Linked DNA regions of Homo sapiens. The protein of the gene in region 4 interacts with the protein of the main gene of each other region in a biochemical or structural test. Each region holds a gene or a part of one and is shown on either strand. Other genes may lie near its edges. The genes, in order: LAMTOR5, RARA, THRA and NCOA6.

Region 1 (7,032 bases), on a different chromosome or scaffold from region 4:
TATTTCCTCATGTGTAATTGCTACCATTTATTAAGTATTATGTCTCAGTTCTATGTAAGCATTTTATACATATTATATAACCTTAAAATATCGTGATTAGGCCGGGTGTAGTGGCTCATTCCTGTAATCCCGCACTTTGGGAGGCGGAGGTGGGTGGATCACCTGAGATAAGGAGTTCGAGACCAGCCTGGCCAACATAGTGAAACCCTGTATCTACTAAAAATACAAAAATTATCTGGGCGTGGTGGCAGGCGCCTGTAATCCCAGCTACTCAGGAGGCTGAGGCAGGAGAATTGCCTGAACCTGGGAAATGGAGGTTGCAGTGAGCCAAGATCGTGCCACTGCACTCTAGCCTGGGCGACAGAGCAAGATTTCGTCTCAAAAAAAAAAAAAAAAAAGTGATTAAGAGGCCTCAGGGCCAGACAAAAATCCTAGCTTAACGACTTACTAGCTGCATGACCTCAGGCAAGTTATTTAACCTCTGTGTCTCAGTTTCTTTTTTTATTTTTTGAGACAGAGTCTCGCTCTTGTCATCCAGGCTGGAGTGCAATGGTGCAATCTCGGCTTACTGCAACCTCTGCCTCCCAGGTTCAAGCGATTCTCCTGCCTCAGCCTCCCGAGTAGCTGGGATTACTAGCACCTGCTACCATGCCTGGCTAATTTTTTTTTGCATTTTTAGTAGAGATGTGGTTTCACCATGTTGGCCAGGCTAGTCTCGAACTCCTGACCTCAGGTGATCCACCCGCCTCCGCCTCCCAAAGTGCTGGGATCACAGGTGTGAGCCACCGCATCCGGCCTCTTTTTTTAAATTTTAAAAACATATATATATGTTTATTGTAAAAATAGAGATGGGGGGTCTCACTGTGTTGCACAGGCTGGTCTTGAACTCCTGGGCTCAAGTGATCTGCCCACCTTGGTCTCCCAAAGTGCTGGGATTACAGGCGTGAGACACTGCACCTGGTCCCTCAATTTCTTTTTCTACCTCACTGGGTTGTTATGAGGAATAAAAGAGTATATGTAAAGCACTTACAATGGTGCTTGGCACATAACAGCTCAATAAATATAATTCTATGATTATTACCATTATCAAATAACAACCCAGTGAAGAAAATGAGGGCCTAAAAGGTAGTTTTTTGGTCCACGTTCACACTACTAACAAATGAAAGAGCAAGGGATTGAGACCAGGTATGTCCAACACTGAAATCCCATTTTACTGCCTATTCACTTCTTGTTTAGTGTAGTTGAGCTTCAAAATTGTACACCACCCACCTTGCCGGGTTGTTGTGAAAATTAAAGATAATGTATTTAGAGCCTAGCAGTCTCAGCATATGGCATACATTCAATAAATGGTTAACAGCTGTTATTATCTGAAGTCCTTTCTAGACTCAATTTAAAATGATTCAAATATTATTTTTAGTAGAGACAACTATTTATTGTTATAGGACTGCAAGGAACATCTTCCTTCATAAATACCAACTGAAAAGTTTCAATTTTCTGATACTGTTATTTGGAGATAATCTCTACTCTCAAACTCAGAAAGACCTGGCAAGGTAACAGGAAATAAAAGCTAGAAAATAATAGCACGCTAGGCTCCAAGTCAACATCAGATGCTATGCAATTCATCAAATAGTTGGTATGAGAGATACTTACAACCCAGATTAAGTCCTTGTGAATCTGTGCACAGGACTCCAACAATGGAGGGATTCTTCATTCTAATTCCAGGAACACAAGAGAGTTGAAGTACATAATGGGAGAAAAAGGATTTAAATAAGTACAAACATACAGGTGTTCTATGTACCAGGCATTAAGTGCTTTAAATCAATATTTCTCAATCTTTTTTCATTGTCACACCCTAAGAAAAAAATTAAGTTCTAGGGCCGGGCGCGGTTGCTCACGCCTGTAATCCCAGCACTTTGGGAGGCCCAGGTGGGCGGATCACCTGAGGTCGGGAGTTCAAGACCAGCCTGACCAACATGGAGAAACCCCGTCTCTACTAAAAATACAAAATTAGCCAGGCGTGGTGGCGCATGACTGTAATCCCAGCTACTCGGGAGGCTGAGGCAAGAGAATCGCTTGAACCTGGGAGGCGGAGGTTGCAGTGAGCCGAGATCACGCCATTGCACTCCAGCCTGGAAGACGAGCGAAATTCCGTCTCAAAAAAAGAACACAAAAAATTTAAGTTCTAGTTAATTAATTGAAATAAACCAGTTTCTCTCTGATGAGAGAAAAAAATGTGCTAAGTACTGCTGAGTTCTGGAGGGCCACAAACACTGCGTGAAAAACATCTAGGATGTTTTCACTCTTGTTAAAAACGCATGTTTTAGTACTAACTCATTTAAAACAACTGTTGAAAAACTCAAGTTACCTCCTGGAGGGTAAGTGGAAGCTGAGGGACATCGGTGGGAGGCAGGTGTCTCTCTGTACCCTTTACACTTTTCCAGTTTTGAATTTTACATAGATACTGCTTGTTCGAAAAATTTAAAGAATGATTTTTATCTACTTAAGCACCAAGTAACTGATAGGTTACACACAGGAGATACGTGTTTGTTTACACTGCAGGGCTCGACACTGCACAACTGGCACAATCTTCCCAAAAGTCAACCCGTTTTCTAAAACTTCCGCAGAACCACCCTGACCGTAAAGACGATTTCAACAACGAGATAGGCAGTTTTGGCCCGTGGCCTGGGCCCGGGAGACTCGCTCAAGAGGGAATGTGCGGTGCCCGGCAGGATTTTAATTCCGGGTCACCCGCCCCGCCCTGCGGCCTTGGGTAGAGTTTAGCCCCCTCATCCCGTGTCCCGGGGGTCGCGCGACGTCCCCGAGACGCCCTGGCCGGTACTCGCAGCTCGCGCCTTTCGTTCCGCTCAAGTTCCTCCGCCGCGACCTCAGGACAGGCCGAAGAGGCGCGCACTACTCACGTGTCTTCCAAGTGCTGCTCCAAGGTCGCCTCCATCCCACCCACCGACCACTCCGGCTCAGAACCCAGCGGCACGGCACGTCCTTCTCCACCACAGGCCTCAGTCACTTGACGCGAGCGGGGCGTGGACCGTAACGGCGCCTCCAAAGGGACAAAATTGATCACGGTGCAACGTCCGCGTTCTTTACTGGAAAACATCACTGCGCTTCCGTCGCACAGAGCCTGACGAAGGCTTGGGCTCCCCGCGCGGTGACCGTCGAGGTGACCTGCACCTGGCTCCATGGCGGAACCGGCCGGCACGGATTATTCCCCTCTCGGGAGAGGTCTGCAGCCGGGCCTCAGTGCTTCAGTTCGTGGCCTGGCATTTTGTGTCAGTGTTTTTTAACCTTTGGACCCTAGTTCAACCGACTCCGAGACCTAGGGGACAGATCTTAAGTTTTACAATAACCCAGGGGTCAGACAGGGTCTGATCTAGCCTGTGGGGCAAGTACGGGGAAGACACGGGACCTCTTGGAGGGGGTCAGTAGGCTTGTAGGGGGAAAGACGCACACAGAGACTAAAGGACGAGATGGAGCAAGGTTCAACCCCCTAGCTGAGTGTTGGCAGTGTCGGGATTTTAACGAAGACATTGGTGCTTATTATGGTGAGGGGACTCAGGACAGTTTAGGGGAAGAGAGTGGCATTTGAGTCCTAACTCGTAAGGAAGACTGGGTAGGACTACTTGAAAATAACTTTTAAAAATTAATTATAAAGCTGGTAAAAATAGGAAAACATCTATGGCCCCACTGTCCAAAGACGACTTTTAACTTCTTGGAGAATATCCTTTCAGATAGTTGTCTTTGTAAATGTATACTTTTAATGTTTTTTCGTTTGCCTTTTTAAAATAAATTTTTTGGGGGACAGGGTCTTGCTCTGTTACCCAGGCTGTAGTGCAGTAGAACGATTATAGCTCATTGCAACCCGGACGTCCTGGGTTCAAGCTATCCTCACCTCTCAGCCTCTCGACTGGCTAGGACCACAGCCTCGAGCCATCATGTCTGGCTAATTTTTACGTTTTTTTGTAGAGATGGGGGTCTCGCTGTGTTGTCCAGGCTGGTCTTAAACTCCTTGCTTCAACAGATCCTCCCACTCCAGCCTCCCAAAATGTGATTACAGGCTGAGTCACCACGCCTAGCATGGTTTTTTTTGTTTTGTTTGTTTTGTAAGCAAAATTGACATACATACTGGAGGTACAATTCTGTAGCTGGCCTTCTTTACAGAGTTTAGAATAAATGTCTTTCCATGTCAAGTTTTCACTTACATCCTTTGTAGTAGTTGCAAAATATTCCATTTTATAGCTGTATCTTAATTGTGGATTAAGGTTGGAGTGCAGTGGCACTATCATGGCTTAGTCCAGCCTCAGCCTTCTAGGTTCAAGCGATCTTCCCACCTCAGCCTCCCAAGAAGCTGGGACTACAGGGACCCGCCACCCCACCTAGCTAATTAAAAAAAAAATTGTAGAGATGGAGTCTCAGTGTGTAGCCCAGTCTCAAGTGACCCTCCCTCGTTGGCTTCCCAAAGCGCTGAGATTGCAGGTGAGCCACTGTACTTGGACTTTTTTTTTTTTTTTTGCTTTTGTTTGTTTTTTGTTTTAGCTATTACAATGCTGGTTGAATATCCTCATAGCTAAATATCTGTGCAGTTTTAAAATTTCCTTATAAGTTACTAGAAATGGAATGACTGGGTTAAAGGACATGATCATTTTTTAAGACTCTTGATACATACTTACAAATTGCCTCCCGAAAAAGTGGTGCTAATTTACTCAAATTGGTAAGCCTCACCCCCTCTGTGGATCATTCCTTGCACTAAGTTTCTTCCAACTCTGTCACCTCCAGCTTTTTACTCACAGCCTACCTTCCAATCTGGGGCCCAGCTCCCAGATCGGAAGATACCAGACTTTGGTATTGAACCAAAGTCCAATACACTGCACTGGCATTCAGAGTCCCTTTTTATTCCGCAGCTGTCATAGTGAAGCTTGCAGCTTCCTTGAAATTCCAGTTTGTTTATTTCTTTATTTTTTTGAGACAGAGTCTTGCTCTATCGCCCAGGCTGGAGTGCAGTGGCGCCGTCTCAGCTCACTGCAACCTCTGCCTCCTGGTTCAAGCGATTCTTCTGCCTCAGCCTCCCGAGTAGCTGGGATTACAGGCATGCACCACCACACGTGGCTAATTTTTGTGCTTTTAGTAGAGATGGGGTTTCACCATGTTGGCCAGGCTGGTCTCAAACTCCTGACCTCAAGCGATCCGCCCACCTCAGCCTCCCAAAGTGCTGGGATTATAGGCATGAGCCATTGCACCCAGCCAAAATTCCAGTTTGAATGTTATAATTCAGGGGTCTTGGACTCCTGCTCTAGAGAAATTATTCATGTTAAGTTAGGGGTAACACAGTACAGGCCATATAAGTTTTAGAAAAAGCAGTTTAAAACTTAGCATTAGAAAACATAAGTACTGCCTGGTGAAATGGCACGTGCCTATAATCCCAGCTACTCAGGAGGCTGAGGCAGGAGGATCCCTTGAGCCCAGGAGTTCAAGTCCAGCCTGGGCAATATAGTCTAGTGGCCACATTAAAAAAAGTAAAACAGCCGGGCGCGGTGGCTCACGCCTGTAATCCCAGCACTTTGGGAGGCCGAGGCGGGTGGATCACGAGGTCAGGAGATTGAGACCATCCTGGCTAACACGGTGAAACCCTGTCTCCACTAAAAATACAAAAAATTCTCCGGGTGTGGTGGTGGGCGCCTGTGGTCCCAGCTACTCAGGAGGCTGAGGCAGGAGAATGGTGTGAGCCTGGGAGGCGGAGCTTGCAGTGAGCCGAGATCGCGCCACTGCACTCCAGCCTGGGCGACAGAGCGAGACTCTGTCTCAAAAAAAAAAAAAAAAAAAAAAAAAAAGTAAAACAGGGCAGGGTGCAGTGGCTCACGCCTGTAATCCTAGCACTTTGGGAGGCCGAGATGGGTGGATCAGTTGAGGTCAGGAGTTTGAGACCAGCCTGGCCAACATGGCGAAACCCCATCTCTACTAAAAATACAAAAATTAGCTGGGTGTGATGGTGCGTGCCTGTAGTCCCAGCTACTCAGGAGGCTGAGGCAGGAGGATCGTTTGAACTCGGGAGCTGGAGGTTGCAGTGAGCCGAGATTGAGCCACAGCACTCCAGGCTGTGCTACAGTGTGAGACTGTCTCAAAAAAAAGTAAAACAGATGAAACTAATTTTAATAACATTTTATTTATTCAAACAATATATTCAAAATATTATTTCAACTTGTGATTGATAAAATACTAATGAGATATTTTATATTTTTTCTCCAGTACTGTCTTCAAAATCCAGGGTATATTTTTCAGTTAGCAGCACATTTCAATTCAGACCAGCCGCATTTCAAGTGCTCAGCAGCCACCTGTGGCTAGTGGCCACAGTATTGGCCAGTGTAGCCCAAGGATATCTCAAATTATCTCAAAGCTAGATCAGTGATTAAAGGATTCTCAGGCCAGGCATGGTAGTTTTCAGGCCTGGTATGGTGGTTTACGCCTGTAATCCCCGCACTTTGGGAGGCCTAGGTGGGCGGATGGCTTGAGCCCAGGAGTTTGAGACCAGCCTAGCCAACGTGGGGAGACCCTGTCTCTACCAAAGCACAAAAATTAGCTGGGCATGGTGATGCGCACCTGTGGTCTCAAGTACTTTGTGTGAGGTGGGAGGATCACTTGAGCCCGGGAGGTTGAGGCTGCAGTGAGCTGAGATTGCACAACTGCACTCCAGCCTGGGTGACAGAATGAGACCCTGTCTCAAAAAAAAAAAAGGATTCTCCGAAAGACTGGCGATTGCTTTTTAAGCTATAAGGAAGGCCTTTGAAGGGAAATCAAGTAGGAAGAGGATGATAGCTGGCTCACATGTCCTTGCCACATGGGAGGTGAGAGAGCAGGCTACTCCTTACCACCCCCGCTTTCTCTGCCCTGCTGCTGTCTTGCCCCTGTGCAAGTAGGCAATGGGAGAGGAATAGTATATATAAATTGGGCAAGTGCTAGGGGCTGGAGTGATGGTTGGGGAAAGTATCTGACCCTTGTTTTCTACTTTCTTTAGCTTGTGGG
Region 2 (7,027 bases), on a different chromosome or scaffold from region 4:
AAGCTCATTTCCCAGCCGTCCCCCCAACCCCACAACAGGCTCACACACACATCTGGCCAGCAGCTTCCAAGCCTCGTGGGTGGCACCAGGTCCCAGACACCCTCAGCAGAGCAAAGTCGACAAGTCAGTCTATTCCGTCTTCCCCTCACCCCAAAAAGTTCCCACACCCCATGGTGGCACAAGACCCAGGAACACCCCTACACACATACTGCATTGGCTCCCGCACCCAATTCTGACGGTTCCCCTCACTCCACGGGGGACACCAGCTGAACCGGCCCGGCCCCCGGCCGGCTCCCTCTGGTGGGAGTGGGCCCCCTGGCTGATTCTCCCCAAACCACAGGGCAGCTCAGATAACAGGAGGGAAAAAGAGAGGGGGCTAGTCCGTTGAGCATCCGATCTCTCCCCAAACAGGTTTGAATTCAAGTCTTTTTGTTTTGCTTATCATTAAAGAGAAAAAGAACAGAAGTTCCCAGCGGCGGTTCTGCAACAGCTCGAGCGCGGGGGACACGCGCAGCAGACGGCCCCAGACGCCTCAAGGCTGCGCGCGAAGACACGGCGCAGGCAGACTCACAGACGGGGCTCCCCCACCCTGGACACGGCGGCAGCGAGTTGGGAAGCCCAGGAAACCCCGGGTTCCCGTCGGAAGCCTCCCGGTACCCAGTCCCCTCCCGCAGCACCAATCTGGGGCAGGACATGGGGCCCCGACGCCTGCGGGAACCAGGGGCTCCCCAAAATCCCCAGGGGAGGAATTACCTCGCAGCGGGGGAAGCAACCCGTTCGGGGTGCCAGCGAGCACAGCGTCTGCCCTAACCCGGCGCCCTGGTGCTGCTCGGCATCAGGGTGCGGGGTCCCGGGAGAGGAGCCGTCCAGGGGGCCGCGGCTCAGGGGCGCGGGGCGATGGCAGCGGCCATAGCGAGTCACGTGCGGAGGCTGAAACTTTACCCGGAGCCCCAGACTGAAGGGGCGGAGGGTACGGAGCAGAGGTAGGGGGAGGCCCTGTCCCTCAGGCCCGCCCCTGCCCGCCCACCGACCAATCACCAGTCAGGGGCGGATCTACAGGCTCACGCCCGCCCCCGCCTCTCCTTAATAGACCTCGGGAAGGGCGAGTCTTAAAGGAGCCACTCCTAGTTGAAGACTGGACCGTGGGAATCCGGGAGAATCCCTCCCTCAGACCCAGAACCGAAGATTCAGAGCAAGAACGGGGTGAGGTTCTGCGGAAAGAATGAAAATAGCGCTCGGTGGAGAAGACCGCAGCGTGTGGTATCCTACACTCCTTTCCCCCCAACCACACACACACCCACACCTAAATCTGAGAAGTGAGGCGGCGGCGTAATATGGAAGTGAGTGCGGTGACTCCTGCCCTAGCTGTCAAGCCCCTGAATCCTATAATTATAATCCTCTTCTAGGGACCAGCTGGAACTGAGAGCTGTGTGACCTTGACCAAGTCACTTCCCTTCCCTGGATCTTAATTATCTCAGCTGCAAGAAAAAGAAAAAAAAAAAAAGAGTCCAGGAGTAGATCTCCCGCAAGTATATCTCTTCTTTCCCCAAACACCTCTGCAGCTCCAGTGGGTCCTAGGAACCCTGGCTCAACCCAACCCTCCCAGCCCCCTTAAAGTACTCTTCTCCTCAAAGGGCAAGACTTTTGGATCTTCCAGTAGGGGCGCCCAGGAGCACCCCTCCGTGCTCAAAGACTCACACTCAAGCTTCTCTCTCCCGAACAAGTCTGGAGAAGCCAGGAAAGCTCTTTTTCATGTTCCAGCTGGACAGGATCTGAATCACCCTCCATCTGAGAGACCCCCAGTCCCCAATACAGTCATGACCCCCCTCCCAGCCTGCAGCTCTGTTTGGGAGGATCCTGTCCCCATCGCTAGCAGTCCACTGGCGGGCTTAGGGGGAAGCAGAATTGCTTAGAATACTCCCCTCTCGCCCTGTTCCCAGGCAGAGAAGTGGCCACAAGTGCCCCCACAGAACTTCCCACTGGAAGGGGAAGTGCTGCACTCCCAGGCCTCCAGCCCAGTGAGGAGACTCTCAGCCTGACCCGGTGGCAGAGCTCTCAAACCCACTGGTCCGACGGACCCCGCTTTACAAACAAGGAAAGAGAGTCCAAGAGCAGGCACTGGGTTTTGTGCACAGTCGCACCGGTTGCAGAGCCGGGTCTAGAATTGAAGTATCTGATTGTCCCTGGCTTTAGCCCAAGAGCCATGGTAAGGTAGGACAAGCCAGGATGGCGGGACCCTTTGCCCTGAGGGCCGGCGCACGGGAAACTGCCCCAGCAGTGCTGGGCCGCGCTTCCCCAGGCCCCTTCCCGCCTGCTGGGCCGGAGCTGTCTCCCGCTCCCGTCTGGATTTCCGTCCGCCGGTGCGAACCTCCCGCCCAGCCCCTCCCGCCCTGTCCTGTCCAGATTCATCCGCAAACATGCGCTCAGCCGGCAGGAATGCGCCAATGGCTCCCAGATGTGGACGCCACCGCTTAACCCCTTACCCCCCAGCCGCGCTCCCCCAAGGGCCTTCCAGCCTGAGCCCCGCCAACAGCAGGGAGCTCTGCCCAGGTGAGAACCAGCCCAGGACTGGAGTCAGCGCCAGCCCGCCCCTAGTGCCCACGGACACCTCCCAACCTAGATCCTACCTGTCTTCCTTCCTTGAGGCTGGAGGGGAAGGCTCATGGACACAAGAATGCAAGCATGCATGCACACAGCTACACTGCCTCCCAAGTGGGACGACCTTCAGGTACACCTGCCATCATAGGGTCAGGCATCCTGGTACAAATGCATTTCCACGTGCACATTCAGGGCAGGGATGTGTACATCCCCGACGCATGTATGCACATCCACGCATGAACAAGTACATCCAAACACATTTGTGCACAGACAAGGGCATGAAGCAGAGGGTGGGGCACACTTCTGCACAGACACAGAAGTAGCCCCATGTGTGGATGAGGGAAGAAATTCATACACACAAACCCACCCCCCGCAGGGGTCAGACACTCAAACAAGACCAGCACCCGTGTGTACAAACACAAAGCATGCACATCTTTGGGGCATTTCCTTCCTGTCCAGGGAAACCAGTACCACCTGTCCAAGGCCCAGCCCTACCCAAGCTTGACTGCAGAAGGCAGGAGAGGTCCCCAGGTGGGGGACCAGGAGTCTTCAATCTGCAGCAGCAGTTGAACTCCAGCTATGCTGGGCTCATAACAGGGCTTCCACCACCCCCTCCCACCAGGGACTCTGATGCAGGAGGAGAGAAGGGTACCCAGGGAGCAGCAGGAAACTAGCAGAGAGAGAAAAGCCACAGGCTCGGGGCGCCTCACTCTAAGAAGGACACTCCTTGGGGCCTACTGTTTCCCTGCACACAGGAGATAGGCTGGGGGAGGAGTCTGAGCCCCATCCCTCTTCAAACTAGAGGAAGTGAAGGAAGAGAGTCTGGACAGGTACCAGGGCCAGTGGCAGTTCTCAGTAGTCAAAAGAGATAAAATATAGCTCTGAGACACCCTAGGAGGGCCCACACTTCTAGTACAACAAGGCTGTCTTCTCACAGCCTGTGGAAACTCCTGAAGAACAGCATTAAGTGATACTCCGAAGAGATGATGAGAAGCAATTGGCCCTCCAAGACCATGGTGCGGGAGTTTGTTGGAACCAGCTCCAGCTGACTCCTCTTCCCCTCCCAAGCCTCCTAGCTCATCCCAAAAGGAGCTCCTCCCACAAGTACCTTAATAGTCCCACTCCATTTGATTCTCACAGTCCTGAAGGGGCAGGCTCCTGTTGCCATTGTAGAGATGAAAAAACTGAGGCTCAAAAAGAAAATTGCCTTCCTCAACGTCATACAGCTTGTCAATGGCAGGGCTGGGATTCAAACCCAGGCCAGGTATGGTGGCTCACACCTTTAATTCTAGCACTTTGGGAGGCCAAGATGGGACGCCAGGAGTTGCTTGACTCCAGGAGTTCAAGACCTGTCTGGGCAACATAGCAAGACCCTGTGTCTTTTTTGTTAAAATAAATAAATATATACGTGTGTGTGTGTGTGTGTGTGTGTATATATATATATATATATATATATATATATATATATATACACATATAAGCATATATATATATATATATATACATATAACCCAATCAATGTTCCCTCCTCAACTCTTTCCTCCCCTACTTACTCCAAATCAAACATGTATGACTCCACTCTGTGCCCTGCTACCTTTTCCTTCACCCCTTAGTGGATCACAAGGGAGAAGCGCCATCCTTGCCTGGCTCTGCAGGTTTATGGGTGGGGCCAGGACATGCCAGAGAGAGATCAGAGAAGACACTGGGGGCTGCACACATAGCCCTCCACCCCCACCACAAGCCTGGTGCCCACCTGCCTAGCAGGCATGGCTGGGTGACTCAGCTGCATCCGGGGGAGATGCCAGGGCAGTGACTCACCTACCGAGAAGAGCTGAGCCTGGCACCTTGCCAGCCCCAGGACAGAAGTGACTTAGTCACCACCAAGACTGTGATGCCCAGCAGGCACAGCCCAAGGATTGCAGACAGGGGCAGACTGTCCCTCCATGGTTACATGCGCCCCCTGGCAAAGAATGGGCCTCAGCATTCTGGGGCCAGCAATGTCTGTGCCAGCCCCTGCCCCCTCACCACTGCCCACCCCCACCACACCAGGCCCCGCTCCAGTGCCAACAAGTTTTGTGAGACCCCTGTGCTGCCCTGCCCCCACTGCAGCCTGCCCATCACTCACCACCCACTCTCCCACCTGCCCCACCTCCTCCTGCCACCCAAGTTGTACCCAGGCTGTGAGTCTCCTTTAACATGTCCTGGCAGCACTCCCTGCCCCCACAGCCCCTCTCACCCTCTCCCCTCATATACACATGCACTCAAACACACTTCTGCCAGCCTTGCTTCTGCCAGCAGCTGCTGAAGTTGTTGAGCAGGAGGGAAATTGGGAGGGTGGGGTGCAGGGATTGAGTTACCAGAGCTGATGGGGTGGGCTGTCACCCAATCCCTTCCCCAGCTCGTCCCCACCCCCACCCCACCCCTCCACCCGCCATATCCCTCACCCACCTGCCTCCCTCCCTACCTCTGGCTGGCAGCCTACTGCCCTTTAAGCCCGTCCACCCAAGCTAGAAAATAAATGTTCAAGAGTATTTGTCATGTTAAGACCAGCCTAGTATATGAGAGAGAATGAGACAGAGACCAACAGAAAGAATAATTCCTGTGCTCAGTGCTCTGGCTACAACCACTAAATATGTGTATGTTGAGCCAGAAGGGGACTGAGCAACTCCGCAAGTCCCAGAAGAGTTGGTGGGGCCCAAGGAGAGTTGACAGGCTAAACAGCCTCAATCCATTTGCACTATTGATTTCTCACACACTGCAGTAGGCTTGATGGGGGGTATGATAAATCAGCCCCCAAGAGACACAGAAACTGCGTAGAGAGAAGGGGAGGGGCTTCTGAACCACAATTGGTGGTGCACCATGACTTGCTTGGTGCGTTGGGGGTGGGCAGCAGAGGAATAGGAGATGTTGAGTGGCATGAGGCAGGGTAGGGGAGAGGGTGTTGGATTAAGGCCTGTCTGGAACACCTCCTTCCAGGTGGGTCTGAACTAATTTGAAGGAAGAAGGTGGGAGACAGATGCACCACGTGTGGCTACACAGGCAGGGCCTTGAACAACCCCAGGGGGTGCCATTCACATCATAGTCTATGGAATGGTTCCCCCTGCAGCTGTGCAGCATGGTGGCCTGTGGGGAGAGCCTGAGGCAGAAGACAGAAAGCAGACTGAATTCTGAGGGACCACAATTCTCCATTGAGTTTTCTCCCCATACACACCCCAACTTGCCCCAACTTTCCCTGCCTCCAGGCCTCAGAGGGGGCCTCCTTCTGACTAGCGATCAGAAGCCAGTAGTAATCTCCCCACTCCTCAGCCCTGCTCCCTTCTTTTGTTGGGGAGATGGGCAAACAACCACCATGACCCACAGGTCCTGGGCAGGGCAGGAGGAGGGCTCACAAAGGGCTCTGGGGAGTCTGGACGTCCCTTCTGTAAGGTGTCTCCTAGCCCCACAGCTCACCAGCCTGTGAGCCTGCTGGAGCCTGTCCAGCAGCTCCATTCACACCAGTGGCCACAGGCCACCCAAACAAACCCAACTCTGACCTCCTTCTAGCCTGGACACAGACTCTTTCCACATGGAGACTTATAAACAAACCAAGCTGGGATTTTCAGAGACCCTGCACAAAAAAGCAGATGGGAAAATGGACCAGGTGTGCCTGGCTCGTGGTCCTCCTTGCTGCAGTAGGGAAGGGAAGCACACTGAGCTGTGGTGAGGAACCATGACAACAGAAAAATGGTGCAAAGGGAGGGCCTGGGTTCAGGTCTCAACACAGCCAATGACTGATTGAGTGTTCTCTCTAGGCCTCAGTTTCCTTCTCTGCAAGGGGAAGGGATTGCCTAGGTAGCCTCTAAAACCCCTTCCAGCTCTGAGTCCAGCTGGATAAAGAAAACCCTGTAGGGTGCCAGGACTCTTCCACCCAGTCCAGCCCGGCCCATCTACCTGGGTCATGCCCCTCTGGGTAAGGTCCTGCCCCTGCTCCCCATGCCTCCTTGCTGTCTTCTGCCCCTCTGGCCCTTCCTCACTCCTCTGCCTGCCTGCTTACCCTCACCTTGGCCAGCCCCTCTGCCTGCCCCGTGCTTTTCTGCACGTCCCTCCTGCCAGGGGACTGACCAACTAAAAATAGTCCCTGCAGCCTTTCTCGCCCACAGCTGCCCAAAGAGCAGGAAATGAGGGGGGCAGGGAGGCCCATGCCCTGCCTTACCCCCACTAACTCCCAGGTCAGAATCATGTCCAGCACTCCAGCCTGGGGCTAGCGCCAACTTGGCCATCCTGGGGGCATCCCACACCCCTTTCCTAGGGGGAGGCCTGCCCATAAGTGCCTGCAATCACAGAGCTGCCCCTACCCTGCGGGAGGAGGAGAAAGGAGGCAAGCGGTCTAGAGGGAAACCTTCCCAATTTCTGACAAATCAGTGCCAACCACATTGTGGGCACCCAAAGG
Region 3 (6,565 bases), on a different chromosome or scaffold from region 4:
GGGATGGGAGGTGACCAGCCCTGCTGAGCCCACGCTCCCAGCTTTCAGGCACCTCCTGCTCTTGGGGCAGAGGCCTGGGAGAAGGTATGGCACTCCTTCTCCTTCCCCATCGGCCTTCTGGGGGGCTTCAGGGAGAGGCTGCATTGCCTGCCAGGTCCTCGCAGACCTCCGGTTCCTCCTCAGAGGAGCTCGGGGAGTCCGCCTCACTGCTGTCGTCTTCCCCACAGACCGCTCGGGCATGGAGAATTCCGCTTCGGTGGAGCAGCTCCAGGAGACGCTGCTGCGGGCTCTTCGGGCTCTGGTGCTGAAGAACCGGCCCTTGGAGACTTCCCGCTTCACCAAGCTGCTGCTCAAGCTGCCGGACCTGCGGACCCTGAACAACATGCATTCCGAGAAGCTGCTGTCCTTCCGGGTGGACGCCCAGTGACCCGCCCGGCCGGCCTTCTGCCGCTGCCCCCTTGTACAGAATCGAACTCTGCACTTCTCTCTCCTTTACGAGACGAAAAGGAAAAGCAAACCAGAATCTTATTTATATTGTTATAAAATATTCCAAGATGAGCCTCTGGCCCCCTGAGCCTTCTTGTAAATACCTGCCTCCCTCCCCCATCACCGAACTTCCCCTCCTCCCCTATTTAAACCACTCTGTCTCCCCCACAACCCTCCCCTGGCCCTCTGATTTGTTCTGTTCCTGTCTCAAATCCAATAGTTCACAGCTGAGCTGGCTTCTGTGGTGTGTGCTCGTTTGGGGGGTGGGGTGGAAATACTGCCAAGGCTGGGGGGGGCCACCTCTCCATCTGGTCAGTTTGTGGGGTGGGTACTCTGCCAGCAGATGGGAGGATATAGGGAAACAGCACACAAGTCTAAGGGGGGTGCCCAAGGGGGTTATTTTCATCATATATTTATTACATAAATATATAGTAAAATAGACGAGCAACAATTACCATAAAAATATCTTTCTTTAAAATCCTGACCCAAAACACAACGGGGTGAAAAATCGCACATAACAGACATACTGATTGTCAACGTGGGGCAGGAGTAGGAGCCCCTCAAGTCACCCCTGCCGGTCCCACCCCTCCCTGGGGAAGAGACCTACCTCCTTCCCTGTTTCTGGCCACAACCCCCCTCCCCCCAGCCCAGCACCAGCTTCTCATACATTCAGTAGCGCCTCTGGGCAGTGTCCCCCTCCCCCCCGCCCAGGAGTTCCCAGGGCAGGAGTTACTGTCCTCCTTATGGACGGTCTCTCTCTCACAACGCCCTGCCCTCTCCCAGCCCTGCAGACCCGCCACCAGGAGAAGGGGTAGGGGCTCCTCCCCCACCCTCCCCAAGTCTGAGCAGGGAGGAGGCTGGATGAGGTATGTGTGTTATGAGTGATGGGAGGGGCAATACTGAGATGGAGAGGCGGGTGGTGGGGGCGGGGTAGTGGTCATGGCTCTGGCAACCCCTTGTCCTGGCCTGGCCCCCTCGTCCTATTCCCAGCAACCCGTCCTCCCACCGATACTGCACCTGCTGCTCCACCCTGCCTGCCCTAGTGCCCCGGGCCAATACTGGGGGAGGCATGCTGAGCACCCACATCAAGGCCATCCCCCTCATTAGCACCAATGGCCCCCAGGAGAGGGCCCTGTCCCCCACTTCCACAGCAGGGACTGGGACAGCTGCCGCTCTAGAGCAGGTGCGTGGCACTCCTGAGTCGCCCTGGCTCCTCCCCTACCATGTGTACTCACTCACACATTCACGCAGAGGAACGCACACATACACCCCACATCACCGAGGGGGAAGGGAGGGGTCCGGGGAGGATGGGATCACAGCTCATATGATTGGGGAGGGTGGGGGAGTCCCAAGTGCCTATAAGAGGCTAAGGCTCTTCAAGGCCTTTTCTCTGCCGTGTCCATGGCTGAGAATGGGGATGGAGGGGTTGGGGTGGGGATGGAGGGATGGGGAAGACAGCAGACAGGTCAGGAATTCCACTGGGCCCCCAGGCGTGGTAGGAAGGTACAAGAGGGCCTACCCATGGGACTGGAGTAATACAGGATTCAGTACTCCAGGAGAGAGAGAGAGGATAGAGACAAAGACAGCGCGGGCAGCCCGAGGCCCCAGCAGGGTGGGACAGGCACATGCACAGGTGACAGCGGGTGCTCCTCCAGGCCCTCCACCCCTGTTGGAACACCTGAACGATTGGGGAAGGACAGTGCCCTGACGGGCAGCATAGCATTGCCTTCCCATGTCCGTGTGTGCATGTCCGTGTGTGTGTGTGTGTGTGTGTGTGTGTGTGTGTGTGTGTAGGGGGCTGTGGCAGGCTGAGGGTCAGGGTGGGGTGGCAGGTTCCCCACTGCTTAAGACATTTTTGCCCCAATAGTGCAAAGCGCAGGAAGCCCTGGCACCCCTCCCCCCACCCCCTGCCCCAATCCCCATGGCTTCCGGGGGCATCTGTGTCCACCCATCCATCCCTGCCGACATGCAGCCCTGAGCCCAGCACCCTCTGGTCTGCTCTGTCCCACCCCACCTCCTGCTCCCATGGGAGGACCACCTCCTCTCTCCCTCTCTCCCCTGAGGAGTGGGCGGCAGCCACAGGGAGGGGGAGGAGGACAGCTCACCCAAGTGCAGACCAACAGAGCACCCTCACCAGGAGGGCGAGAGGGGCTCAAGCCAAAGTCCCTGAATTAGAGAAAAGAAGAGGGGAAGGGGTCCCGGGGCAGAGGGGCAGCTGGCCAAAAGAGCTTTAAAGAAAAAGGAGCACCGACCACCCCTCCCCTGGGGCCCCAACTAAGTGTCACTTATCTAAACACCCCCATTCTGGTACCTGCCCGCCCAGAGTTAGTGCAGTGAGTAGGAGCTGGGGAGGAGGGCAGAGGTTAGAGAGAGCCCAGAAGACAGATGGGAAACAGGGAAACAGAGTGCTAAAGGGGTGGAGGGTTCTGGGAGACGCTCACGCACAGCCCTCCTACCCCCGACCCAACCAATGCAGCAGCATCCGGTTTCTAGCTAATACTGCAGGATATAAGGAGGGTAGGAGTTGGAGCCACAGTTTTTTCCTGGGTGGGTGCCAAGGTGTGGAAGGAGGAGGTGGATGGGGAGAGGCCCCTAGGGCTGGGCACTTAAAGGGGAGCTGTGTGGGCAGCAGGGCAGGCTGGTGAGGGGCCAGCTGGCATCCAGCATGAGAGGTAGATGGAACTCAGCGGGCACGAGTGGCAGAAAGCAGAGGACATACTAGGGTTGGGGGGTGCCAAAGGGGCACAGAGGGCGGGGTATGGCAAGGGGGGTGGCCAGGACCCTGTTGTGTTAACTCACAGCTCTGATCGGCAGCCCTACCCTTGGGGCTCTGGTGTGGGGGCATTTCTCTCTGATGTGGGGGAAGAAGGGGCAGCTCGCAAAGTGCATGGGGTGGTAAAGGGGGGGTCCTCCCCTCTGGTCAGCCTCAGTTAATAACTTAATATCATCTCTCTCTATCGCTCGCTCTCTCTTTTTTGTATTTTTCTCTCTGTCTAGTTTTTCTTCATTTGTCTTCTCCCCTTGCTTGGTTTCCAAAGTGCAGTTAGAATGACTATAAATTTTAACCTCCAGAGGAGGAGCCAAGCCAAGCCGTTCTTTGCACCCAGGCATCTGGGGAAGTAGAGAGGCCCTCAGCCTGGAGGGGAGACCTAGGCCAAGGAACTGGGTGGGGGCTCTCTCTCATGTGTGTGTAGGGGGTGAGTTGAGGGCATCTTCCCCCAGCCCACATTCCTCCTTCCCCTACGGTCAAGGTGGCTTGTCCCTTCTCAATCCTCCCGCCCTTCCCCTACCTTCTGAGAGGATGGGGTCCTGGGAACTGCAGGACACAGCTCCCCCAGCCTCCCACACTGTCCTTTCCATAGCAAGTTCAGTTGTTTGCCCTGTCCCAGGGCTGGAGGTCTGAGGAGGGACCTGGGCAGTGCGGGTGTGTGTGTGGGAGCTGAATCTATCCAAGGACGAGAGGAAGGAGAGAAGGGGTGTGGGGGGGTCTCCCTCAGCCCCCAGCTCTGCCCCTTCTCTCCAGGCTCCTCCCCACCAGCTCCGCACACCCTCTGGCCGCCTGAGGCTTTAGACTTCCTGATCCTCAAAGACCTCGAGGAAGAGTGGGGGGAAGAGTTCGGTGGGGCACTCGACTTTCATGTGGAGGAAGCGGCTGGCGTGGCAGGCCCCGATCATGCGGAGGTCAGTCACCTTCATCAGCAGCTTGGGCCAGAAGTGCGGAATGTTGTGTTTGCGGTGGTTGACGTAGTGCTCGAACGCCAGCAGGTACGCCTCCTGACTCTTCTCGATCTTGTCCACACACAGCAGGCCCGAGCGGTCTGTGAGGGAAGAGGGGCGTGAGGGGCGAGGGGCTGGCCGAAGGCCTGGAGATGGGGAGGGTGAGGTGTGGGGACGTGGGAAGAAAGGACTAGAGGGGAGATAGAGGCAGAGAGGCTGGGGGAGGGGAGGGGAGAAGCTCCCCCTGAGAGACGTGGACAGGAGAAGCACAGGGAGAGGGAGGCAGCTGGGAAGTGGAGAGGGGCAGGGGGGTACTGGGGGGAGGGGGCAATGCAAGGAGGACAGAGGGACAGGCCGGGGGCTGGGGGAGAGAGAGGAGCCTTGGAGTGGGGAGGACTGAGGTTGGTGGTCAGAGAGGCGGGGTGCAGATGGGGTTAGGGAGGGGACTGAGGGGTAAGAGATGGGACTGGGAGACAGAGGAGGGATGAGGGGATGGAAGGTGGCTGAGAACAAAGTGGGGAGTGGGGAACAAAGGGGAATGTGAGTGACAGAGGGACAGGGCAGCGAGAAGGAAGGAGACAAAGACAGGAAAAGGCACAGAGCAGGGATGGGGAGGCAAGGGATGGGCCTGGGGAACGAGTGAGAAGTGTGTGACAGAGCAAGGAACAGGGGATAGGGGATGGCCCAGGTGACAGAGAGGTAGCCCAGAAGAAGATTCAGGAGGGAGTTGAGCAACAGGCCCAGGGTCCAGCCAATCTCTGGGACCCCTGGAAGCTTCTGAGCCCTCCCGACTAATCAGCAGGTACCTGTTGACATTAGCAGCACAGCCTGCAGCAGAGCCACTTCCGTGTCATCCAGGTTAAAGGCAGAGAGTGACTTGCCCAGTTCAAAGATGGCGTCGGAGACTACGCCCAGGCCGCCATTCTTGAGCTGCTCCCGCTTGACAGCCATCTCCCCACTCAGCGTCAGGGTGTCGCTCTCAGGGTCGTAGCGGACAGCCGCCCGCAGGGACATGATCTCCATGCAGCACCCCTTCAGGAGGATGATCTGGTCTTCGCAAGGCAGCTGTGGAGCGGCAGGGCCACAGGAGCACTCAGCATACCCCTCCCCGCGTCCTTGAGTCTCCCCTAGAGTGTCCTACGGGAGCCGTGAGGCCCGCAAGGCCCCCATGGACTCTGAACGGCTGACCTTGTATTGGGCCATGTGCATGCCCTATTCCATTTAAGCCTCACAGTTATGCCTGTGAGGCCCGGCGCAGTGGCTCACGACTATAATGCCAGCACTATGGGAGGCCAAGGCGGGTGGATCACTTGAGGTCAGGAGTTCGAGACCAGCCTGGCCAACATACATGGTGAAACCCATCTCTACTAAAAATACAAAATTAGTTGGGCGTGGTGGCACATGCCTGTAGTCCCAGCTACTCAGGAGGCTAAGGCAGGAGAATTGCTTGAACTCAGGAGGCGGAGGTTGCAGTGAGCCCAGATCGCGTCACTGCACTCCAGCCTGGGTGACAGAACGAAAATCTGTCTCAAAAAAGAAAAAAAAATTATGCCTGTGAGTTAGCACCCATCATTATCCCCAGCCCACTCCAGATGGGAACACTGAGGCACAGGGGATGGAGGTAACTTACCCCAGGTCACATGGCTAGTAGGGCAGCCTGTCTCCAGCACTAGTGCTCTGGAAAATGAGAACTTTCAGGCTGCCTGGAGTTGGGTGGCCGCATAGACTTGAAGGATGAGGGGCTGTGGAGGGGAGCACTTGGAGCCGGCTGATTTCTTAGAGCAGCCAGACCTTGGCGTGTGTCTGTATGCTGTGTGTGTGTGCCTGTGTGTTTGTGTGTGTGTCTGTATGTATCTATGTGTGTGTCTGCTAGGTGTGTGTGTGTGTGTGTGCCTGTGTGCTGGGTGTGTCTGTGTGTGTGTGTCTGTGTGCTAGGTGTGTGTCTATGTATCTGTGTGTCTGTGTGCTAGGTGTATATGTCTGTGTGTGTGTGTGTGTCTGTATCTGTGTGTGTGTGTCTATGTATCTGTGTGGCTGTGTGCTAGGTGTGTGTGTGTGTGTGCCTGTGTGCTGGGTGTGTGTCTGTGTGTGTGTGTGTGTCTGTGTGCTGGGTGTATATGTCTGTGTGTGTTTCTATGTATCTGTGTGTGTGTTTGTGTACTAGGTGTGTGTGTGTCTGTGTGCTGGGTGTATGTGTGTGTGTATGTGTGTCTGTGTACGTATCTGTATGCTAGGTGTGTGTGTGTGTCCGTGTATGTGTCTGCATGTGTGCCTGTGTGCTGGGTGTATGTGTATGCATGTGTGTGTGTGTGTCTGTGTATGTTATCTGTGTATGTTGACCTACAGGAATTGCTCCTTGTCC
Region 4 (7,027 bases):
CCATGGGGAGGCTTTTGAATGGAGACCCTGAAAAGCTGATGTATCTCTCAATGCCCACAGATGACTCACCAAGAAGAGAGGGCTAACAAAACCCTCAAAGTTTGTTGTTTTACAGAAGAGAGATTTCTTTATTGTGCTGGCAAAAGTTACTGGCATAGGAAAATGAGGGAGGCTGGGTGTGTTGTCATTGACCATCTGTTTTTCTACAGGGTGTTTACTTATCCATGATCACCTGATCATATTAGAATGTCTCTAAAACTTGACTCAGTTACTCAAAGCTTGAATCAATTATCTACCATTTCAAAATTCCGCAGTGCCATCCTGCTCCCACACACTGGTCACTCAGCAACATTCAAATGTCTTAGACCTGGCATCCAGGGCCCCAAGAAAGTACGTCGGCTTCACTTCTCCACAACTCCTCAACAAACCAGCAAATCAGACTTCTCACTATTTCATTACCTAAATATTCCTTACATTTTCCTATGTCCATCATTCCTTTGGTTACTCTCTCCTTAATCCCATTTGTTGCAATCTTACCCTTCCATTTTAATAAATTTTAATTTAATGCCTCTATGTTATCTCAAACACTACCTGTTATGTGTTGACTTGTGCCCCCCAATCCCATCCCTGCCAAATATGTTAGTCTTAACTCTCAGTACCTCAGAATGTGACCTGATTTGGAAACAGAGTCGCTGCAGAGGTAATCAATTAAGATGAAGTTACTCCTACTGGAGTAGGGTGGGACCTACTAGTGACCTTATAAGGGAAATTTGGACACAGAGACATACAGGGAAAACGCCATGTGACAACAGAGGCAAAGATGGAGTGATGCAGCTACAAGCCAAGGAGCACCAAGAATTGATGGAAGGCTCAGCCTCTCAAGTAGGTGCGATTAGATGCACATGCCAGCACGCCTGGCTAATTTTTGTACTTTTAGTAGAGATGGGGTTTTACCATGTTGGCCAGGCTGGTCTCAAACTCCTGAACTCAAGTGATCCACCCACCTTGGCCTCCTAAAGTGTTGGGATTACAGGTATGAGCCAGCTATTTGGGAGGCTGAGGCAGGAGAATCACTTGAACCTGGGAGGCAGAGGTTGCAGTGAGCCAAGTTTGCACCACTGCACTCCAGCCTGGGCAAGGGAGTGAGATGCTGTCTCCAAAAACAAACAAACAAACAAACAAACAAAAAAGAGCAGCTGGGTGCAGTGGCTCACACCTGTAATCCCAGCACTTTGGGAGGCCGAGGCAGGTGGATCACCTAAGGTCAGGAGTTCGAGACCAGCCTGACCAATATGGTCAAACCCCATCTCTACTAAAACTACAAAAAAATTAGCTGGGCGTGGTGGCAGTTGCCTGTAGTCCCAGCTACTCAGGAGGTTGAGACAGGAGAATCACTTGAACCCAGGAGGCGGAGGTTGCAATGAGCCAAGATCTCACCACTGCACTCCAGCCTGGGCAACAGAGTGAGACTCCATCACACACACACACAAAAAAGCAAAAGCAAAAGCAAAAGAAAATGTATATAAATGGGTACTACGGAACTGATATTCAACAGATTCAATATCAGTAAAGGAGCTGATTAATGGGAACTTTTGTTGCCTTTGTGTGTGTGACGGAGGGGGAGGGGTTGCAGCTGGTTAATGCTAAATACAAACTGAAATATCTGTTTAAAGTATGAATGCCCTCTGAATTTGGTGCTCATTAATATTAACTGATATAGTTAATTTATTAACTGATAATGAATATTATAACTGACATAGAATACACAATTCATCACAAAGTAAAGGTATGGTCCTGGCCTTCTGCTTTATAGAGATTGTATATCAAATAAAGCATATGACCAACTCTAGGGCTGCATTCCTCCTTCCATCAAAGCCATAGTATTTCATTTGTGTATACATCTAAATGTAACTCTAGTTATTTACTAATTAACTCAGAATGTTTATTGAGCTCCTAGGCAGCTACTTTATGTCCTTTTTAGAATAAGGTGAGGTAGAAAAAGATCACATTTAAAAAAATAAATGAATATACCAGACATCAAAATAGGCAGACACTGGAGCTGAAGGGAGGGAAGGGGGAAGGCAGAGACAGACACCAGCCCAGTCCTAAAGGAGCACTCACCCAATCTAGTGAGAAGTAAGAGAGTAAACTAGCTCCATATCTCTCCTTTCTCCCCATGCTGATCCTACACTTCACAATCAGGCTTCCTTTCCTAACGTACAGCTTTCATCACATCACTGGCGAAAAACATTTGATGACTTCCCACTACCTAGTCAATCAAGTTCAAACTTCCCAGCTTGGAATAGAAATGGGTATTCAAAGCCTTCCATGATTTGATTATATGGTATGCAGAGATTAGGAAGGCAGGCTTTGAAATTAGACTACCTGGACTCAAATACTTTCTGTATCAATTGTTAGCTCTCTTCTTCATTTTATATGTAAAAAGGGATTAAAAACCAGTGCCTACCTCATCAGGTTGTTGTAAGGATTAAATAAAATGCTACTTATGAAATACTTAGCACATTATCTTGCAAATAGTAAGCATGCAAAAAATGTGAGCCATTGGCCAGGCATATGGCTTGTGCCTATAATCCTAGCAATTTGGGAGACCAAGGCAGGAGATCACTTGAGCCCAGGAATTAAAGACTGCAATGAGTTATAATCACGCCACTGCACTCCAGCCTGGGCAACAGAGTAAGACCCTGGTTCTATTTAAAAACAAAACAAAACAAAACAAAAAAACCCTACCCAAAGAACACTGGGGGGAAAGAAAAGCCACTACTACTATTAATTTTTTTAAGTTTTATTTATTTTAGGTTTTATCTATTATTGTTACTATTGTTCATCTCCATTTCCACCCTTAATTCCAACAACACCCTTATAACAATCCTCTTCTCCAAGCAAAGTGGACTCTTTACCATCTCCTAAATACCCACCTCTGTGTTTATGCTTTCACTCAGCCTGGAAAATACAGCACTGTCTCATCTCCAAGTATTAAGATACTAACTATTCTTGGCAGCTTCGTTCACAGACCACCTCTTTCAGGTACCATTCTCTAGTATCCCAGCTCCATAACACATTACAGACATTCCTCAGCATAGAAACCTTGGCTAGATTCATCTTGGTATCTTGCAGAGTTCTAGCCAGTTTCCAGAATACATGGTAGGGCTCAACAAATGTTTGAGAAAATAATACCTATATTTCCTTTCTCGTCCAACCACTCTCTTAGACAACAGCTCCACAATACAAGTAAAAAGAGTTCTTCTACAGTATTTCATAAAGCTGGCCAGCTAATTTTCTATCACCAATGTGGTAATTTCTAATACAGTACTTAATACATAGTAGATGCCTAAATATTCAAGGAGCTAAGCTGAATTTCACCTCATCTTTTAATTTCATTTATCATTCTATTCATTATGATCAAGTATGGCTCATCCTTAGAAATAGGTTTTAGTATTTACTTGCCCACAAACTCATCTGTCAATTTCTGGCCATCCCCCCCACCATCCCAATATGTCATTTACTGGTTTGGGGGAGACAATATTCAATACCTCAATAAAGTAAGAATCAGAAAATTAAATGTCTGCAGGGCCATAAAAATAAAGAGCAAAGCAAGACAGCAAGGCAGACTATGGAGAACTAGGAAACACATCTCACCTAAAAGTTTCAGCTGGTTACCGCTATAAATGAATATGGGCTTGCTGTTGACAGATCTTCCAATTTTTCAAGGTTAAGTCAGAAACTCAGAGGTCTGTGTACATTTTTAAGACATTAAAAATATTGTGTAAACCAAACAAAATACTTATACAGGTCAAATCCAACCACAGGTTGCCAGTTTGCAACCTCTGCTACAGAAGTTCTCTGCAAAAGTGATGGCGTGAGAAGAGTTCTATCCTAGCAGATAATCTAAGGCAGCCCCTAAAACTAAGTAGCTCCTTGGAAGCATCTCCTGCAACACTCAGCCCAACTCTCACCATTCTGATTGACCTGAAAACCAAATTAATTTGGCAATTTAATTGAGCAAAATGAGCCCCTGCTCTGTACCAGGTGCTGAGGAATCAGAAATGAACAGTAGTGCTAAAGTACAGCTAATATTTATTGAGCATGTTCTAGGTGCCAAGCACTGTTTTACACGTTATGTATATTGACTCATTTAATCCTCACAAAACCCTATGAGATTACTATTATCCTTAAAGACTGAGGCGCAATGAGGTTTTATTTGTCCAAGGTCACACAATCAGCAAGCAGCAGTGCTTAATAAGGACCTGAGACAGACTCCACCAAAAAGAGCTCACAATTTGAAAGCAAGCCCCATTCAATAAATGATGCTGGGATCACTGGTTATACATAGGGAAAAAAAATGAAACTGGACCCGACCTTACACTACACATAAGAATCCATTCCAGATACATTAAAGATCTAACCATTGAAAACAACAGTAGGTATTCCAGAATATAAAGAATAATTGCAGGCTGGGCACAGTAGCTCACACCTGTAATCCCAGCACTTTGTGGACTGCTTGAGCTCAGGAGTTCCAGACTAGCCTGGGCAACATGGCGAAACCCCGCCTCTACAAAAAATGCAAAAAGTAGCAGGGCATGGTGGCGCATGCCTGTGGTCTCAACTGGCATGGGAGGTGGGAGGGTTGCTTGAGCCCAGGAGGTTGAGGCTGCAGTGAGCCGAGATCGCACCACTGCACTCCAGCCTCGGTGACAGAGCGAGACCCTGCCTCAAAACAAAGAATAACTGCAAATCTTAAAGGAAAAGATTGATAAAGTTGATACTAAAATTCAGAACTTTTTAACAAATGACACCTTAAAACAGATGTTTTAAAATAAGCAACAGGCCAGGCGCAGTGGCTCACACCTGTAATCCCAGCACTTTAGGAGGCCAAGACGGGTGGATCACTTGAGGTCAGGAGTTTGAGACCAGCCTGGCCAACATGATGAAACCCCATCCCTACTAAAAACACAAAAATCAGCCAGGTGTGGTGGCACATGCCTGTAGTCCCAGCTACTTGGGAGGCTGAGGCAAGAGAATCACTTGAACCTGGGAGACGGAGGTTACAATGAGCTGAGATGGCACGACTGCACTCCAGCCTGGGCGACAGAGCAAGACTTCATCTCAAAAAAAAAAAAAAAAAAATTAAAATAAGCAAGAAACTGGGAAATGACATCTGTAATATCTACCAACAACAAAGGATTAATAATCAGAATATATAAATAAATCTTTTGTAAAAGACAACCCAATAAAAAAAATGGCAAAACAAGCCCGAGCATTATCTAATCCGTGTAAAGCTGGCACTACCACAGTTACCACACAGTACACTCCAGAACAATAGACCTTGCCATCACTGACTGATATAAATATTCAGGGGTCTGTGTTATGCTGCAGGTACACAGAGCATGGGTAATCCAGCCCAAAGGGCAGAGCCAAGACGTTTATTCATTCTCTATCATCATATAGACATTGGATGGCAAATTAGAGGTTGAACATCCAACACTCAAACACATAGATCAGGGGTTGGCAAATGTTTTTGTAAAGAGTATTTCCAGCTTTGTGAGCTGACACAACACATCTCTGTCACGACTACTCAACTCTGCTATTGGTACCACAAAAGAAGATATGGACAATATATAAATAAATGAGTGTGGCTATGTTCCAATAAAACGTTATTTACAAAAACAGATCGTGGGCCAGATTTGACCTATGGACCACAGTCTGTCGACCTCTGACATAGATAGTTGTGCTTTTTCTACACTATAGGTAGGACACTTCCCATGTTTTCCCCTGTCTTTTATGTCTGCTGACACCTCTGATTTCCTTAACCAAAAACTACACCACACTTGACAGCTTTGCAATGGTTTCCAAAACTCTATTACTCTGCCAAAAAAACCTTTTCGCCCTTATTATCAATGAGAATTCTCCCCTCATTTTCCTTTCACTTTTTTTTTTTTTTTTGAGACGGAGTCACGCTCTGTTGCCTGGGCTGGAGTGCAGTGGTGCGATCTCGGCTCACTGCAAGCTCCGCCTCCCGGGTTCACACCATTCTCCTGCCTCAGCCTCCCGAGTAGCTGCGACTACAGGCGCCCGCCACCACGCCCGGCTAATTTTTTGTATTTTTAGTAGAGATGGGGTTTCACCATGTTAGCCAGGATGGTCTCGATCTCCTGACCTCGTGATCCGCCCGCCTCGGCCTCCCAAAGTGCTGGGATTACAGGCGTGAGCCAACACGCCCAGACTTCCTTTCACTTTTTTAAACCTCTTTGACAGACACCACCCCAAACCAGAAATTTAAAAAACTCCCCCTAAGCCACTCACAATGTCAATAATCAACACCTGCAAATTCTAACTCCACTCAATGCCCACAGCCTCTGCCTTAGTTCAGATCCTCATTACTTCTAACTCTGCTCAGTGCCCACAGTCTCTGCCTTAGTTCAGATCCTCATTACTTCTAACTCTGCTCAGTGCCCACAGTCTCTGCCTTAGTTCAGATCCTCATTACCTCTCTGGTCTTCAGTCTACCCTCCTTCCAAAGAACATCCATTTATCTCCTAGAAATTAAACCTCCACCACATACTCCCCTTCTCGAAGATCTTGAATGCCTCTCTCAGCTAAGGATTCAGTCCAAACTCCTTAGCAAGGTCCTTCACAACCAGGTTCCTAACATGGTCTTCCTAGTCTCATCTCTGGCCATGCTTTCACACACATTCTATGCTCCAGCCACATTCAGTTATTAATACATTCCCTGAAAACGTGTCTTTACCTGAAAGGCCCTTCTCTCCATTTCACTGGCAAATTCCTGTATCTTTTAGGACACATCTCAAATGTCACCCCTTCGCAACACCTTCCCTGATTCTTTGAGCAGACACACCCATCTCCGTGTCCTTATAGCGTTTAATAACTCTTCTTTGGCATCGACCATCCTGAACTATGATTGTTCACATGTCTACTTCACTCATGGGGCTGCATACCCAAAGTGAAGTGACTCTGCCTTAAAAACTTCTGAAGCTACAGAGCCCAGTAT

What was found.
Region 1: the proteins of NCOA6 (region 4) and LAMTOR5 form a complex in vitro, tested with the Homo sapiens proteins (one study listed by BioGRID).
Region 2: the proteins of NCOA6 (region 4) and RARA form a complex in vitro, tested with the Homo sapiens proteins (3 studies listed by BioGRID).
Region 3: the proteins of NCOA6 (region 4) and THRA form a complex in vitro, tested with the Homo sapiens proteins (2 studies listed by BioGRID).

The regions. Positions count from the first base shown.
Region 1 is NC_000001.11:110,404,668-110,411,699, forward strand, and holds the start of LAMTOR5 (ragulator complex protein LAMTOR5), read right to left. Parts: upstream 2,954-7,032; coding exon 2,919-2,953; intron 1,713-2,918; coding exon 1,651-1,712; intron 1-1,650. UniProt on the Homo sapiens protein: As part of the Ragulator complex it is involved in amino acid sensing and activation of mTORC1, a signaling complex promoting cell growth in response to growth factors, energy levels, and amino acids.
Region 2 is NC_000017.11:40,312,175-40,319,201, reverse strand, and holds part of RARA (retinoic acid receptor alpha), read right to left. Parts: intron 4,010-7,027; exon of another isoform or gene 451-4,009; intron 1-450. UniProt on the Homo sapiens protein: Receptor for retinoic acid. Retinoic acid receptors bind as heterodimers to their target response elements in response to their ligands, all-trans or 9-cis retinoic acid, and regulate gene expression in various biological processes.
Region 3 is NC_000017.11:40,086,945-40,093,509, reverse strand, and holds the end of THRA (thyroid hormone receptor alpha), read right to left. Parts: intron 5,269-6,565; coding exon 5,010-5,268; intron 4,305-5,009; coding exon 4,054-4,304; 3' UTR 508-4,053; downstream 1-507. Other genes in the region: NR1D1 (nuclear receptor subfamily 1 group D member 1), read left to right, coding at 228-427.
Region 4 is NC_000020.11:34,815,645-34,822,671, forward strand, and holds part of NCOA6 (nuclear receptor coactivator 6), read right to left. Parts: intron 5,996-7,027; exon of another isoform or gene 3,658-5,995; intron 1-3,657. UniProt on the Homo sapiens protein: Nuclear receptor coactivator that directly binds nuclear receptors and stimulates the transcriptional activities in a hormone-dependent fashion. Coactivates expression in an agonist- and AF2-dependent manner.